2 separate regions of the Homo sapiens genome follow, and region 2 is linked to region 1. Evidence: fine-mapped expression QTL. A gene starts in region 1. The other region holds a variant in brackets. All regions are shown on one strand. Distances are from middle to middle. Region 1 holds the start of CAMSAP3 (calmodulin regulated spectrin associated protein family member 3). Region 2 has its middle 25 kb from the start of CAMSAP3.

Region 1 (8,766 bases):
GATGGATGAGTGGGGTGGGTGGATGGATGAGTGCGGTGAGTAGGTGGGTGGGTGGATGGATGGATGGATGGATGGATGGATGGATGAATGAATGGGTGGGTGGAAGGATGGATGAGTGGGTGGATGGATGGGTGGATGGATGAGTGCGTGGGTGGATGGATGAGTGGGGTGGGTGGGTGGGTGGGTGGATGGATGAGTGCAGTGGGTAGGTGGGTGGATGGATGGATGGATGAATGAATGGGTGGATGGATGGGTGGATGGATGGATGAGTGGGTGGATGGATGGGTGGATGGATGAGTGCGTGGGTGGATGGATGAGTGGGGTGGGTGGATGGATGAGTGGGGTGGGTGGGTGGATGGATGAGTGCAGTGGGTAGGTGGGTGGGTGGATGGATGGATGAATGAATGGGTGGGTGGATGGATGGATGAGTGGGTAGATGGATGGGTGGATGGATGGATGGAAGGCTGATTGAGACAGGATCTCACTCTGTTGCCCAGGCTGGAGTGCAGTGGCGTGATCATAGCTGACTGTACCCTGGAACTCCTGGGCTCAGGCAATCCTCCTGCCTCAGCCTCCTGAGTAGCTGGGACTACAAGCCCATGCCACCACACCCAACCATTTATTTATACCATGACCTTCCCTGCATCCAGTCATTTAATCCTTACGACACTTATTATTATACCCCTTGTACAGATGAGAAAACCAAGGCCTGGAGAGCTGAGATAACTTGTCCAGGATAAAAATGTCCAACATGAACTTGAGTTTCCCTCACACATCACACATCTGTTCTGAAGGCATAAAGAACTGCATGGGGTGTTTTCCAAATGTGTTTAACATGGAACCCTTTGTTTTTTGAGACAGAGTCTCTCTCTTTCACCCAGGCTGGAGTGCAGTGGTGCAATCTCGGCTCACTGCAACCTCCGCCTCACAGGTTCAACAATTCTCCTGCCTCAGCCTCCCAAGTAGCTGGGACTACAGACGTGTGCCATCATTCCCGGCTAATTTTTGGATTTTTAGTAGAGACGGGGATTCATCGTGTTGGCCAGGCTTGGAACCCTTTCTTATCTAATCTCCAAGCTTGTGTTCTGCTTTTATTTCTGCACAGCCTTCTCACACCTGTGCCTTGGAGTTGCCAGAACTATCCCTTCCTCTGAGCCATCACTACTCCCACGGGGCCACTGCATACCTGATCTTGTCAGTTCCCAACACTGTCCGTGGCTCCCCAGTACCCTTGGATCCATAACCAGGGGCCTGAAGGGCCTTCCTCAGTCTGACCAGCCTCCCTTATCTCCCACCGCCACCCCGGGGACCTGCATCTTATTCTCTGAGAACTCCCTGCTGGTCCACACTCCGAGCCTTTGCCCACTGCCCACACATCTCTTCTCCGTGTCAAACTTCCATGCATCCTTCCAGACTCAAATCTTTCCACCTGTGGGATCTCTTCCCTCCCTGGAAGATTTCAAGAATTTCTTTCCCCAGGCCCCGCTGGCCAGCTTCCCTATGATCTGGTTTCCTGCCCATCCCCCTCTGCCCCATATCCATCCCCTGCCGTCTCCTCTACACCCTGAGCGCCCAGCCCAGCACCTGATAGGTATCATACCGTCAAGAGTCCCCAGAGCTCATGAATCTTGTAGAACTCTGCTCCCATTTCCTTCAGCCCTTCTCCTCTTTTTAGGGGAGTGGAACAGGGAACAGATTGAACTTGACCCTCACGGTAGAGGCAGCCACTGCCGTGTGTCACACAGCAGAGGGAGCTGGGTCAACAAGAACAGAACTGGGTGAGTCAGGGCACTGGGAGCTCACCAACACCCCTCATCAGAAGTTTGCTTTGCTGTCTTCAAAATGGGATAATTTCTACTCTGATTCCTGGCCAGGGGATAATGGATAACGTTAATATTATTCATCAAAATATACCACCGCCAATCACACCAGCAGCGAGCAACCGTTTCGCATGTATCACGCGCCCCGTGCCACGCGAAGAATTCTGTGGTCACTACAGCTTTTACGCCTCCCAGCAACCTTGCAAAGAGGTAACGGGGGGTCTCCATCACTGGAGCAGTGCCCTACACATAGCAAGTGCCCCTGCCCCACAAACATTCGCAAAACAGATAAGTCTGTGAATGAACGCCTTCTTTTATAGAAGGGGAAACAGAAGCTCAGATAATTGGGATAATTCGCATTCTGGTGCAGCTGGACTTCACATTCAATTCTGACACTCCACGTTGAGTTCTCTACAGCCTGGTAACCTTGGAAGTGAGGAGCTGGGGCTGTCCTGGCTGTCCAATGCCCAATCTCTTTCTTCCTCAAGCAAATATCTGCAGGGAGGTAGACCCCAGAGTGGGAAATGCATGCATGGAACGACGCAGACAGAGACTGTCTGGGAGAAAGAGGGACAGGCTGGGGCGGAACCAGGAGACGGACAGCTGTCACTGAGACCCACACCCAGAACAGGTTGATCTGGGAAGGCCAGGGAGAGGGGGGATGGGCTGTGCCAACACCAGTGGGCAGAACCAGTGGGAGAAAAGGATGTACCCCCACAGCTCCCCGCTGGAAAGCCCAGACCTTAATTAACCCCTGTCTTCTCTGGCCAGGCCCTGACTCCTAGCTCTGGCCTGGGGTTGTGAAGCTGCCCAAAGCCGAGACTGAGTGTTTCCAGGGCCTCTAATCCCGGGGACCCGGGATTACGGCATCCTCCCCATTAGGGTGGCTCGGGCTCTCAGGCAAGCGGGCCTGGGGGAGGGAGTGAAGGATCTGCTCTAATGGGAGAAGGCCCCGCAGCCGGGAGGAGCGGGGGGCCCACCCCAGGCGATCTTGTACTACCCATTTCCCTTCAGCTGGGCTCGCCAACCTCCCCAGTAAAATGGGGCCATAAGTCGCAGCTGCCAGGCGCTGGAGGGGGCTATGGAGGCGAAAGGGGGTTCCCAGAGCTCCCCGGTCGCCGCCCGCAGCGCGGCCAGGGCCGACGCGGGGTGTGTGTTGGGGCCTGGGGGTCGTGCGGTGGTGGAGACCGGAGCGCTCGAGACCCCCCAGCGAGGTCGGGGTCTGGGTCTCCAGGGTGTGTGGCGGGGGAAGAGACCGAGAGGAGATCCTCGCAGGGGCGTGATGTGTGTAAAAGAGAAGAAGGCGTGCAAGGGAAGGCCTTGGGGGTGCGGGAGGCGGGAACGAGAGGTCCGCACGGGGAGACCCCACCCGGCCCGCAGACCCCGCCCGGCTCACCTGGAGGCTTGGACGCCGGGGACCCCCGCGCGGAGCTGGGCCGCGGGCCCCACCCCCACCGCGCTCCCGCAGCCGGCGGGGCAAAGTCCACCGCCCGGGCCGAGCAGGAAGCTCGGAGGCCCCGGCGCGGCAGGGGCCCGAGCCCGGGGACCCCCGGCGGCCGGCGCTATTGTTCCCACGGCCCCCTGCCTTCCCGGCCCGGCGCCCCGCCCCCCCCCAGCACCTGCCGCGCCCGGCCCGCCGCCCCCGACCCCGGTCCCCCGAGCCCCGGTACCTGCGCCCCCGAACGCGGCCCGCAGCACCCACGCCAGGCTGGCCGCCGCCTTGGCCCGCGAGAAATCGTACTGGTCCAGCGACTTGATCTCGGGCACTAGAAAGGTCCTCCGCAGCGGCCCGGGCCCGGGGGGCGCCGCCTCCACCATGGCGGCGCCGGGGCTGCGGGCGCCGGGTCCGCGCTCGGACTGGGCTGGGCTGGGCTGCGCCGCGCTCGCGCCCCAGCCGGGCCCGCTGCTGCTACCGCCGCTGCCGCCGCCGCCGCCGCCGCCGCTGCTGAGCCAGGTGCGGCCGCTTGCGCTGGCGACGCTGCGTCGGGCCCGCCCCGGGGAGGAGCCCAGGTGCGCCCCGCCCCCGAACCCGGACCCGGACCCTGGCGCGCCCCTGCGCCCCGCCCGGGCCCCTCACTGCAGTGTGCACGGAGCAGCAGGGGCGGGGCGGAGGGGGGCGGCCTGGACTGCGGCGATGGTGGAGGGAGCTTGCGGAGGACTGAGTGTGTATGTGTGCGCGCGCGCGTGTGTGAGTGTGTGCGCGCGCGCCTAGCTTACTGGAAAGGATTAGGGACCCTCTGTGTGTGCCAGCCCCAGTGTCTACCCTTAGGCGTAGGAGCTCCTGCAAGTGCTTGCAATAAACGCCGGCCCTCAGGCAGAGAGTGGTTGGGTGCACCTGTTTCTGATTATGTTAGTGAAGGCACAAGAATATGAGTGTCTTCGTATCTGTGTATCTCTGAATACATTTGGGTGGTGACCAAGTGTATTGGGGGGTGTCTAGGGGTGTGTGTGTGTGGGGTATGTATCTGGGCACGTGTAAGTGTGTGTTTAATTTGTTGTGTGTACAAGGATATGTATTATATAGATGTCTGTATCCTGAGGATGGATGGAAGTGATGAGTGTGTGTCTGTTTTTTGTTTTTGTTTTTGTTTTTGTTTTTGAGACAGGGTCTCACTCACTCTGTCTCCCAGGCTGGAGTGCAGTGGCGCGATCTCGACTCACTGCAACCTCCGCCTCCCAGGCTCAAGCGATTCTCCTGCCTCAGCCTCCCGAGTAGCTGGGATTACGGGGTTGCGCCACCACTCCCGGCTAATTTTTGTATTTTTAGTAGAGTTGGGGTTTCACCATGTTAGCCAGGCTAGTCTCAAACTCCTGACCTCAGGTGATCACCCGCCTCAGCCTCCCAAAGTGCTGGGATTACAGGCGGCAGCCACCGTGCCCGGCTGTGTGTGTGTTTTTGGAGTGCTGTGAGTATGTCTATCTCTGTGCATCTGAACGTACTGGTGTGTTGTATGAGGCTGTTATTGATGCCTCTGTCAATGCAGGAGTATGGAGAGACATTGAGAGTGTGTGTATTTCAGGCCGAGAGCGGTGGCCACGAGTGTAATCCCAGCACTTTGGGAGGCCAAGGCGGGCAGATCACTTGAGGCCAGGAGTTCAAGAGTAGCCTGGCCAACATAGCAAAACCCCGTCTCTACTAAAAATAAAATTTTTAAAAATTAGCCGGGCATAATGGTGCATGCCTGTAATCCCAAGTACTCGGGAGGCTGAGGCGGGAGAATCGCTTGAACCAGGGAGGCAGAAGCTGAGATAGTGCCACTGCACTCCAGCTTGGCCAACAGAGTGAGACCCTGTCTCAAAAAAAAAAAAAAAGTGTGTATATTTCTGCAAGAGTGTGACTATTTGTGTCTATGAGTGTCCTTGCGTAGCTGTACTGGGTGTATTTGCAAGTGTCTTTGTGTATTATTCTGGTATCTGCAGTGTGTGCTGGGAGAAGGCTCTGTGTGGAGGTGAGGCTGTGTGTCTAAGTGGGTTTGTATTTGAGTATGTGAATCTGGCTATATGCACATGGATGTGTGATTGATTGATTGATTGATTTTTTGAGACGGAGTCTCGCTCTATCGCTCAGGCTGGAGTGCAGTGGTGCGATCTTGGCTCACTGCAAGCTCTGCCTCCTGGGTTCATGCCATTCTCCTGCCTCAGCCTCCCGAGTAGCTGGGACTACAGGCACCCGCCACCACGCCCGGCTGGTTTTTTGTATTTTTTTTTAAGTAGAGACCGGGTTTCACCATGTTAGCCAGGATGGTCTCGATCTCCTGACCTCGTGATCCGCCCAACTCGGCCTCCTGAAGTGCTGGGATTACAGGCTTGAGGCACCGCGCCCAGCAGATGTGTGATTTATGATGAGCAGTTCCTGACTATATTTTTGTGCATATATGTGTGTTTATATGTGAGTATCTTTGTGGATTTGAATATATGGTGGGTGCCTGTGACAGATTGTGTAGGCATGAAAGCAGGTATACCTGTGCAAGAATGCCTGTTTCTGCTGGGTGCAGTGGCTCATGCCTGTAATCCCAGTGCTTTGGGAGGCTGAGGCGGGTGGATCACCTGAGGTCAGGAGTTCAAAACCAGCCTGGCCAACATGGTGAAACCCCATCTCTACTAAAAATACAAAAGTTAGCCGGGCGTGGTTGCCCACACCTATAATTGCAGCTACTTGGGAGGCTGAGGCAGGAGAATCGCTTGAACCCAGGAGGCAGAGGTTGCAGCAAGCTAGGATTGCACCACTGTACTCCAGCATGGGCGACAGAGTGAGACTCCGTCACATTAAAAAAAAAAAAAAGAATGCCTGTGTCTGAATGCTTTTGTGAGAGTTCAAATGTGCATATTTATCTAGGAATTCATATCTGTGTAAGCAAATGTATTTCTGTGTATGAATCTGATTGTGTCTGTAAGTATGGAAGTGTGTGTGAACGCGTTGAGTACAAATATTTGTGTACATGAGTGCAATTGTGTGTTTATTTGTAAGGTCTAAGCACCGATTTGTGGATTTTTGGTTTTTTTTTTTCTGTTTGTTTTTTTTTTTTTTTTTGAGACCGAGTCTCGCTCTGTCACCCAGGCTGGAGTGCAGTGGTGCAATCTTAGCTCACTGCAAGCTCCGCCTCCCGGGTTCGCGCCATTCTCCTGCCTTAGCCTCCCCAGTAGCTGGAACTACAGGCGCCGGCCACCATGCCCAGCTAATATTTTGTATTTTTAGTAGAGACGGGGTTTCATTGTGTTAGTCAGGATGGTCTTGATCTCCTGACCTCAGGTGATCCACCCGCCTCGGCCTCCCAAAGTGCTGGGATTACAGGCATGAGCCACCGCGCCCAGCCGGATGTTTTTAATATTTTAATATTTGCTTTTGTTCTATTGTTTGTTTTGTTGTTGTTGTTTTATTTTTTTTTTGGACAGGATCTCACTCTGTCACCCCAGGCTTGAGTGCAGTGGCACAATCATGGCTCACTGCAGCCACCATCCCTGGCTAATTTTTTGTTTTGTGTAGAGATGGGATCTCCTTATATTGCCCAGGCTGATCTCAAACTCCTAGGCTCAAGGGATCCTCCCACCTCGGCCTCCCAAAGTGCTGGGATTACAGGCATGTGCCACTGTGCTTGGCCCTCCATTGTATTTTTGTCAAAATATCCCCTGCATGCCTCTTAGCTGTATATAATTGTGAATGCACAAGTGTTTGTGTGAGTTCGTTCTTTACAGGCCTGGAAAGAAAAGTGTGTTACTTTCGGCCAGGCACGGTGGCTGAAGCCTGTAATCCCAGCACTTTGGGAGGCCGAGGCAGGTGGATCACTTGAAGTCAGGAGTTCAAGACCAGCCTGACCAACATGGTGAAACCCTGTCTCTACTAAAAATACAAAAATTAGCCAGGCATGGTGGCACATGCCTGTAATCCCAGCTACTTGGGAGGCTGAGGCAGGAGAAGCGCTTGAACCCAGGAGGCAGAGGTTGAAGTGAGCTGAGATCTTGCCACTGCACTCCAGCCTGGGTGACAGAGCCAGACTCTGTCTCAAAAAAAAAAAAAAAAGAAAAGAAAAACGTGTGTTACTTTCAGAACACACACACACACACACACATACATAGGCACCTTGTCACCTTGTGAACAGGAATAAGTGCTCACAGACTCACACAAATATTCACAAATTCACACAAATGTAAATGTCAGCTTCATGCACACAAATGCACTCAGAAAGTGATACGTAAAAAGATAACATACAGGCCGGGCACAGTGGCTCACTCCTGTAATCCCAGCACTTTGGGAGGCTGAGGCAGGTGCATCACCTGAGGTCAGGAATTCGAGACCAGCCTGGCCAACATTGTGAAACCCCATCTCTACTAAAAATACAAAAATTCCCTGTGTGTGGTGGCTGGCGCCTGTGATCCCAGCTACTCAGGAGGCTGAGGCAGAAGAATTGCTTGAACCCAGGAGGCAGAGGTTGCAGTGAGCTGAGATCGTGCCACTGCACTTTAGCCTGGGCGAAAGAGCAGGACTCCATCTCAAAAAGAAAAAAAAAAAAAAAAGACCGGGCCCAGTGGCTCACGCCTGTAATCCCAGCACCTTGGGAGGCTGAGGTGGGCGGATCACCTGAGGTCCGGAGTTCAAGACCAGCCTGACCAACATGGAGAAACCCATCTCTACTAAAAATAAAAAAAAAATTAGCCAGAGGTGGTGGTGCATGCCTGTAATCCCAGCTACTTGGGGGGCTGAGGCAGGAGAATTGCTTGAAACCAGAAGGCAGAGATTGCGGTGAGCTGAGATTGCACCACTGCACTCCAGCCTGGGCAACAAGAGCGAAACTCCGTCTCAAAAAAAAAAATAAATAAATAAATAAATAAATAAATTCCAACACTTTGGGAGGCCAAGGTGGGCAGATCACCTGAGGTCTGGAGTTCAAGACCAACCTGACCAACATTGAGAAACCCCATCTCTACTAAAAACACAAAATTAGCCAGGCATGGTGTCGCATGCCTGTAATCCCAGCTATTCAGGAGGCTGAGGCAGGAGAATCGCTTGAACCTGGGAGGTGGAGGTTGCGGTGAGCCAAAATCGCACCATTGCACTCCAGCCTGGGCAATGAGAGCAAAAAAACTCCGTCTCATAAAAAAAAACAAAAACAAAACGCTATGAAATGGAAAGACGCTGTGGCAAGGTGGTCTCCAAGACCCTTGACCCCGGATGGTGGCCCCAGAGCTAGCTCTTTGTTGAAATGGCACGTGTGTTTGGGGCGTGGGTCTCATGGTCCGGAGCATGTGAGCAGGCATGGGGGTGGGTGTGCCGAGGGAGGGGAGCTGGGGCGTGGGCCCTCCTGTCTGGATGTGCCCGTGCAGGAGTGGGTGTGGGTGCGCAAAGGGGCCAGTGTCTGTGTGTGTGAGCACAGGTGCTGATGTGGATGACGCATGCCCCGGCTCCTGTCCCAGTCCCCTCGAAGGACCTAAACAAGGTCTTTTCCCCACT
Region 2 (8,766 bases), 25 kb after region 1:
CAGTGCACTCCAGCCTGGGGGATAAGAGGGAGACCTTGTCTCAAAAAAATAAATAAAATAAAATAAAATCAATCAATGGAATTGCCAAATTAAGAGATTAAACAAAGAAATACATGAAACATGGCTAATATCATACTTAATAGTAAGACTCAATGTTTTATCCTAAGATTGGAAACAAGGTAAGGATGTCCAGTTTTGTTTTGTTTTGTTTTTTTTTTGAGACAGTCTCTCTGTCGCCATGCTGGAGTGCAGTGGCGCGATCTCAGCTCACTGCAACCTCTGCCTCCCAGGTTCAAGCAATTCCCCTGCCTGAGCCTCCTGAGTAGCTGGGATTACAGGCGCGTGCCACCTTGCCTGGCTTCTTTTTTTTTTTTTTGTATTTTAGTTGAGACGGGGTTTCACCATGTTGGCCAGGATGATCTCGATCTCCTGACCTCGTGATCTGCCCACCTCGGCCTCCCAAAGTGCTGGGATTACAGGCGAGAGCCACCGCGCCCAGCCTGGTTTTTGTTTTGTTTTTTGAGACAGGGTGTTGTTGCTTTGTCCCTCAGGCTGGAGTGCAGTGGCACGATCTCATCTCACTGCAACCTCTGCCTTCCAGGTTCAAACGATTCTCCCAACTCAGGCTGCCAAGTAGCTGGGATTACAGGCACATGCCACCACACCCAGCTAATTTTTGTATTTTTAGTAGAGACGGGGTTCCGCATTGTTGGCCAGGCCGGTCTCGAACTCCTGACCTCAGGTGATCCGCCCACCTTGGCCTCCCAAAGTGCTGAGATTACAGGCGTGAGCCACCATGCCTGGCCAAGGATGTCTGTTCTTACTACCTCTATTCAGTATTGTATTGGAAGTCCCAGACAGTGCAATAAGGTAGGAAATGAAATAAAAAGCACACAGACTTGGAAAGAAGAGAAAGATGATAGCGAACATATATGAAAAGAAAGAAAAATAAAACATCATCTACACAAAAAATCAGAATGAATGTACAAAAAACCTACTAGATCCAGTAAGTGATTTAGTGAAGTTGTAGAATACAAGGTCTATATATAAAACTAAACTGTATTTCTACACGATAACAATGAATAATTGGGAATTGAAAAATTTAAAAATCAATATCTTTTTTTTTTTTTGAGATGGAGTTTGGCTCTTGTTGACCAGGCTGGAGTTCAGTGGCGCCATCTCAGCTTATCACAACCTCCACCTCCTGGGTTCAAGCGATTCTCCTGCCTCAGCCTCCTGAGTAAATGGGATTACAGGCATGCGCCATCACGCCCATCTAATTTTTGTATTTTTAGTACAGACAGGGTTTCTCCATGTTGGCCAGGCTGGTCCCGAACTCCCAACCTCAGGTGATCCACCCACCTCAGCCTCCCAAAGGGCTAGGATTATAGGTGTGAGTCACCATGCCTGGCTTTTTTTTTTTTTTTTTTTTTTTTTTTTTAGGACTAAGTCTCACTCTGTTGCCCCAGGCTGGAGTGCAGTGGCATGATCTCAGCTCACTGCAACCGCTGCCTCCAGAGTTCAAGTGATTCTCCTGCCTCAGCATTCCTGAGTAGCTGGAATTACAGGCACCTGCCACCACTCCTGGCTAATTTTTGAATTTTTAGTAGGACGGGGTTTCACTATGTTGGCCAGGCTGGTCTTGAACTCCTGACCTCGTGATCTGCTGGTTTCAGCCTCCCAAAGTTCTGGGATTAGAGACATGAGCTGCTGTGCCCAGCCGTGACTCCGTCTTTATAAAAAAAAAATTAAAAATGAGCTAGGCATGGTGTCGCATGCCTCTAGTCCCACCTACTTGGGAGGCAGAGGTGGGAGGATCGATTGAGCCTAGGAGGTGGAGACTGCACTGAGCTATGATCATGCCTGTGCACTCCCTCCCAGCTGGGCGACAGAGAGAGAACCTGTCTCTAAAAAAAAAACAAGAAACAAACAAAAGAACAGGGACTTGAACGTGCACAGAGTGGCAAGTTCTGCCGCTTGCCAGCTAGATGGCCTCGGGTTTAAGCTCTCCCAGACTGTTTTACCATCTTTGTATTCTACCTGATTTTAGTCCCTGACACAAAAGTTTGCTTTGTAATGTAAAGAAAACTAAGCAGGACTGGGGCAGTGGCTTGTCAGTAATCCCAGCGCTTTGAGAGACTGAGGCCGGAGAATCGTCCAGTTTAAGACCAGCCTGGGCAACATAGTGAGATCCCAACTCTGAAATAAACCAAACACAAAAATTAGAGATAACATAAAGATATCCTCACAGATGCACGTGAAGATTCGTACATATTCATCCCCTCGCCGGGCGCCGTGGCTCATGCCTGTAATCCCAGCACTTTGGGAGGCCAAGGCGGGTGGATCACCTGAGGTTGGGAGCTCGAGCCAGCCTGGCCAACATGGAGAAACCCTGTCTCTACTAAAAATACAAAATTTACCAGGCGTGGTGGCGCATGCCTGTAATCCCAGCTACTCAGGAGGCTGAGGCAGGAGAATTGCTTGAACCCGGGAGATGGAGGTTGCAGTGAGCTGAGATCGTGCCTTTACACTCCAGCAATAAGAGTGAAACTCCATCTCAAAAAAAAAAAAAAAGATATTCATCCCGGTTTCATTCATAACACTGAAATGTCAGAAACAACCATGATCACAGGATTAAGTTACTTGATAAATATAACCATAACCCCCCCCCGCCTCAAAACAGTGGCTGGTATACAATAAGTGTTCAATAAACATGAACAATGCTTGATATTCTGCCTAATTGATGTGACAAATATTTCCTCCCAGACTGTTGCTCTGCCTGTCTTCTGTTATGTTTTATTTTCTGTTTTGTTTTTGTTATTGTTTTTTGAGACAGAGTCTTGCTCTGTCGTCCAGGCTGGAGTGCAGTAGTGCGATGTCGACTCACTGCAACTTCCACCTCCCGGGTTCAAGCGATTCTCCTGCCTCAGCCTCCCAAGTAGCTGGGACTAATTTTTGTATTTTTAGTAGAGATGGGGTTTTGCCATGTTGACCAGGCTGGTCTGGAACTCCTGACCTCAGGTAATCCGCCTGCCTCGGCCTCCCAGAGTGCTGGGATTACAGGAGTGAGCCACCATGCCCGGCTTTCTGTCATTTTAAAGAAATATTTAGGCCAGGTGCGATGGCTCAAGCCCGTGATCCCAACACTCTGGGAGGTGGAGGTGGGCCAGCCACTTGAGCCCAGGAGTTCAACACCAGCCTGGGCAGAACAGTGAGACCCTGTCTCTACTTTTGTAAAATAAAAAATAATAAAATTTAAAAAGAGCCAGGCAAGGTGGCTCATGCCCGTAATCCTAGCACTTCGAAAGGCCAAGGCAGGCAGATTGCTTGAGCCAAGGAGTTTGAGACGATCCTGGGCAACATAGGGAGACCTCACCTCTACTAAAAATAAAAAAATTAGCTAGGCATGGTGGTACATGCCCTGTAGTCCCAGCTACTTGGGAGGCTGAGGTGGGAGGATCACTTGAACCCAGGAGGCAGAGGCTGCAGTGAGCTGAGACAGTGCCACTGCACTACAGCCTGGGTGATGGGATGAGACCCTGTCTCGAAAATAAATAAATAAGTAAAACAAAAAGAAATATTTAACAATTTCAAAACAGGATCATTTCTGGGGGCTTTAAAAATTATCAAATAAATTTAAAAATTATCACAATAATGCAATCTCATTGTTAAAGTGTCAAACAGTAGAAAAGTAAAAATATTGAAATTCTCCCCCTTAAATTCCCACCCTGATATTTCTTCCCAAGGAACTATCCTCCCAGGGCATCCCGTGCATGTACAAACCTGTGTGTCAT[G/T]GACGGTCTTGGACGTAAATGTGATCATACTGTACACAATGTTCTATGACTCTTTTTATCCGTGGAGCAGAGTACCTAGGAATTTTTTTTATGTCAATAGCTATAAGTCTGTTTCATTCTTGTTAATGGCTTCAGAGCATTCCCGTAAGGTACTGTGCCCTAATTTATTAAACTATGCCTCTGTTGTCAGTCACTGAGACTGTTTTCCAATTTTCACTTTTATAAGCAACGGCATCATTGCAGAAAAGCGCTGTGAGGAACACACATCTTTAGACGCATGCGTTTATAGAGGATTGATTGTTGGACGAAACCCGGCTAGGTCAAAAGTTATGCGCTTTATATTTGTTGTTTACTGGGAGGCCAAGGCGGGCGGATCACAAGGTCAGGAGATCGAGACCATCCTGGTTAACATGGTGAAACCCCGTCTCTACTCAAAATACAAAAAATTAGCCGGGCGTGGCGGCGGGCGCCTGTAGTCCCAGCTCCTTGGGAGGCTGAGGCAGGAGAAGGGCATGAACCCAGGAGGCGGAGCTTGCAGTGAGCCGAGATCACGCCACTGCACTCCAGCCTGGGCGACAGAGCGAGACTCCGTCTCAAAAAAAAAAAAAAAAAAATTTGTTGCATGATGACAGTCAAATTCCCTTCCCCCTAAAATCTCCATAATTGACAGTTTCCCAGCCTAACACTGTGAAGATGTTTCTTATTCACCCAACTTTCAGTGTGACTGGATGTGTTAATATTTTTAGCATTTGCCAAATTAAGAAGTGAAAACTGGCCGGGCATGGTGGCTCACACCTGTAATCCCAGCACTTTGGGAAGCTGAGGCAGGAGGATCGCTGGAGCCCAGGAGTTCGAGGCCGGCCTGGGCAACAAAGTGAGACCCCCCACCCGCCTCCGCCATCTCACTTTGAAAAAATAAAACAAATTAGTCAGGTGTGGTGACAGGGGCCTGTAGTCTCAGCTACTGGGGAGGCTGAGGTGGGAGGATTGCTTGAGCCCAGGAGGTCGAGGCTGCTGTGAGATATGATTGCCCAATAGCACTCCAGCCTGGGCGACAGAGCGGTACCCATTCTCAAAAACAGCAAGAACACCAACAAAAACACCAAAAAGATAAAAAAGGAAATAATAATACTACCTATATCAAAGGGCTAAAAATTAAGTTATTTGATAAATACAACCCCCCCCAAACAATGGCTGGTATATATAATAGTAAGTGTTCAATAAACATGAACAAAGCTCGATCATCTGCCTAATTTATGTGACAAATATTTCCTTCCAGGCTATTGGCTTTGTTTGTCTTCTGTCTTTGTTAAGCATGTTTTCATGTCATCAAACGCTCTCATCTTTTCTTTCAAGGCACTGACTTGCAATAAAAGCAAATCTAGGACATTTAAATTGATTGCAGAATAAAAAACTGACTCTGGGCCAGGCACTGGGGCTCACGCCTGTAATCCCATTGCTTTGGGAGGCTAAGGTGGGCAGATCACCTGAGGTCAGGAGTTCAAGACCAGCTGGCCAACATGGTGAAACCCCATCTCTACTAAAAATACAAAAATTAGCTGGGCATGGTGGCTTATGCCTGTAATCCCAGCTACTCAGGAGACTGAGACAGGAGAATCGCTTGAACCCGGGAGGCGGAGGTTGCAGTGAGCCGAGATCAAACCACTGCACACCAGCCTGGGCGACAGAGTGAGACTTCATCTCAAAAAACAAAACAGAACAAAACAAAACAAAAGGAAGGAAATTGGGAAAAAAGAAGGGAGTATTAGCAGTGTTCACATCCAGGCGGTGGAATTCCTGTGACCTTTTCTTTTTTTACACTCTGCTTTCCATGAACATATATTTCCAAATGAACACATATTACCTTTATGTTTATGTTGCATTTGTTTTATAAATTTGTTCTAAGCACACAAGTAATAATTTGTTTGTGGGTTTGTTTGTTTGAGATGGAGTCTCACTCTGTTGCCCAGGCTGGAGTGCAGTGGTGTGATCTCAGATCACTGCAACCTCCACCTCCTGGGTTCAAGTGATTCTCCTGCCTCAGCCTCCCGAGTAGCTGGGATTACAGGCGACCACCACCACGCCCGGCTAAATTTTTTGTATTTTTAGTAGATACGGGGTTTCATCTTCTTGTCCAGGCTGGTCTCGAACTCCTGACCTCAAGTGATCCACCTGCCTCAGCCTCCCAAAGTGCTGGGATTACAGGCATGAGCCACTGCACCTGGCTGAAGCACACAGGTAATGATTTTATAATGAGAACAGTACTCCCTCCCCTCCCCTCCTTTCCAATAAATGTTAATTCTAAACGACAAAAAAAAAAAAAAAAAAAGCAGTAAGTCAGCCCACAGCTACTCGGTGCTTAACCCTCCCCTAGTCAGCAAAGCTCCACCCCGGAGCCAGACGCCTGAACGCCATAGCAGGACCGCCCCCTGGTGGCAGAAAAGTAAGAATCTGGTCCAGGTAGGTGTGTGCGTCAGTTTCCTCCTGCAAGGAGCTCTGTTTTGTTTTATCTTAGTTTTATTTTATTATTAATTTTTTTGAGACGGTGTCCTGCTCTGTCGCCCAGGCTGGAGCGCAGTGGCACGATCTTAGCTCACTGCAACCTCTGCCTCCTGGGTTCGAGCGATTCTCCTGCCTCAGCCTCCTGAGTAGCTGGGATTACAGGCGTGCGTCTCCACGCCCAGCTAATTTTTGTATTTTTAGTAAAGACGGGGTTTCACCATGTTGGCCAGGCTGGTCTCGAACTCCTGACCTCAGGTGATCCCACCCGTCTTGGCCTCTCGAAGTGCTGGGATTACAGGCGTGAGCCACCGTGCCTGGCCTATTTTATTTTATTAATGTATTATTCTTTATTAGAGACGGGGGGGGGGGTCTCACTATGTTACCCAGGCTGGTTTCGAACTCCTGACGTCAAGCGATCCTCCCACTTTGGCCCCCCAAAGTGCTGGGATTACAGGTGTGAGCCACCACGCCCAGCCTGTTTCCTTTTATTTAGATCACAGGTCGGGCATGGTGGCTCACGCCTGTAATCCCAGCAGTTTGGGAGGCCAAAGTGGGAAGATCGTCTGAGGTCGGGAGTTCAAGACCAGCCTCACCAACATGTAGAAACCCTGTCTCTACTAAAAATACAAAATTAGCCAAGTGTGGCGGCACATGCCTGCAATCCCTGCTACTCGGGAGGCTGAGGCAGGAGAATCGCTTTAACTCCAGAGGCAGAGGTTGCGGTGAGCTGAGACGGAGGTTGTGGTGAGCCAAGATCATGCCATTGCACTCAAGCCTGGGCAACAAGAACAAAACTCCATCTCAAAAAAATAAAAATAAAGATAAATTACAAAGCAACCCACTGGGACTAAAATTAGGTAGAATACACAGGTGACAAATTTGAGAATGGGGGAAGGGAAGCCCAAGGTCAGCTGGCTAGCAATGGGCAGAACCTGCCAATCTGTGCAAATGTAGGACCCTGATTTTTTTTTTCCTTTCTGGCAATAAAGAAGGAAAGGAAAATTCCCTGTTTTTTGCTTTTTTTGTTATTATTTTTGTTTCAGAGATAGGGTCTTGCTCTGTCACCCAGGCTGGAGTGTAGTGGTGTGATAATAGATCACTGCAGCCTCAAACTCCTGGGCTCAAGCAATCCTCCTGCCTTAGCCTCCCAAAGTGCTGGGATTACAGGTGTGAGCCGCCATGCCCAGCCTCTTATTTTTTTTAATTTGTTTATTTATTTTTTGAGATAGAGGCTTATTCTGTCACCCAGGCTGGAGCGTAGTGGCATGATCTCGGCTCATTGTAATCTCTGCCTCCCAGGTTCAAGCAATTCTCGTGCCTCAGCCTCGCAAGAAGCTGGGATTACAGGCACGCACCACCACATCCAGCTATTTTGTATTTTTAGTAGAGAAGGGGTTTCACCATGTTGGCCAGGCTGGTCTCCAACTCCTGGCATCAAGTGACCTACCTGCCTTGGCCTCCCAAAGTACTGAGATTACAGGCATGAGCCACTGTGCCTGGCCTAAACTTATTATTAATATTATTTTTATAAAAGGTTTTACTCTGTTGCCCAGGCTGGAGTGCAGTGGTGCAATTATAGCTCACTGCAGCCTCTAACTCCTGGGCTCAAGCGATCTTCTAACTTCAGCTTCCCAAGTAGCTGGGACTACAGAAGCCCACCCTCACACTCAGCTACTTTTAATATTTTTCATAGAGTCAGAGTCTCACTATGTCACCCAGGCTGGTCTTGAACCCCTGGCCTCAAGCGATCCTCCTGCTTTGGCCTCCCAAAGTGTTGGGATTACAAGTATGAGCCACTGCACTTGGCCTGGGTGGCCAAAAGATGTCCTACAGCCTGACCAGGTTGGTTCTTCCCTGTCCAACCTCTACATGGCCATTTCCAGACACTGGGCAACAAACACACCAAGAGGCTGGGTGCGGTGGCTCATGCCTGTAATCCCAGCATTTTGGGAGGCCAAGGCAGGCAGATTTCTTGAGGTCAGGAGTTCAAGATCAGCTTGGCCAACATGGCAAAACCCCATCTCTACTAAGAATTAAAAAGAAAATTAGCTGGGCATGGTGGCATGCACCTATAATCTCAGCTATTCAGGAAGCTGAGGTGGGAGAATCACTTGAGCCCAGGAGGTGGAGGTTGCGCTAAGGCGAGATCACACAACTGCACTCCAGCCTGGGTGACAGATAGAGACTCTGTCAAAGAAAGAAAGAAAAAGAGGAGAGGGAGAGGGAGAGGGGGAGAGAGAGACAGAGAGACAGACAGAGAGAGACAGAGAGAGACAGAGAGAGAGAGACCAAGAAAACACTCTTGAGAATGTGACTTTATCAGTCTCTTGGGTCCACACCTCGTGGCCAGCTCCTGTGGATTGCAGGACAGGGCCCCTGACCCTGAACCCAGGTCCTCACTGTAACCTCAAAATTTCTTGGCGCTAGCTGAGTCTCAAGCTCTGGAACCAGAGAGGGGTAGCCTAGAGAG

What was found.
Region 2: its variant is fine-mapped to the expression of CAMSAP3 in sun-exposed skin (GTEx, PIP above 0.99).

What each region holds. Positions count from the first base shown.
Region 1 is chr19:7,590,875-7,599,640 of GRCh38, reverse strand. It overlaps CAMSAP3 (calmodulin regulated spectrin associated protein family member 3), which reads right to left and starts at 3,778. Exons shown (of 17, transcript NM_020902.2): 1 at 3,491-3,778. The coding sequence starts at 3,638. RefSeq lists an enhancer at 2,194-2,799 and silencers at 3,639-4,078, 6,142-6,342.
Region 2 is chr19:7,566,014-7,574,779 of GRCh38, reverse strand. No RefSeq gene overlaps it. Among named protein-coding and RNA genes, the nearest start is that of CAMSAP3, 25 kb to the left of the region's middle. The variant G/T (reference allele first, on the strand shown) is at 3,795.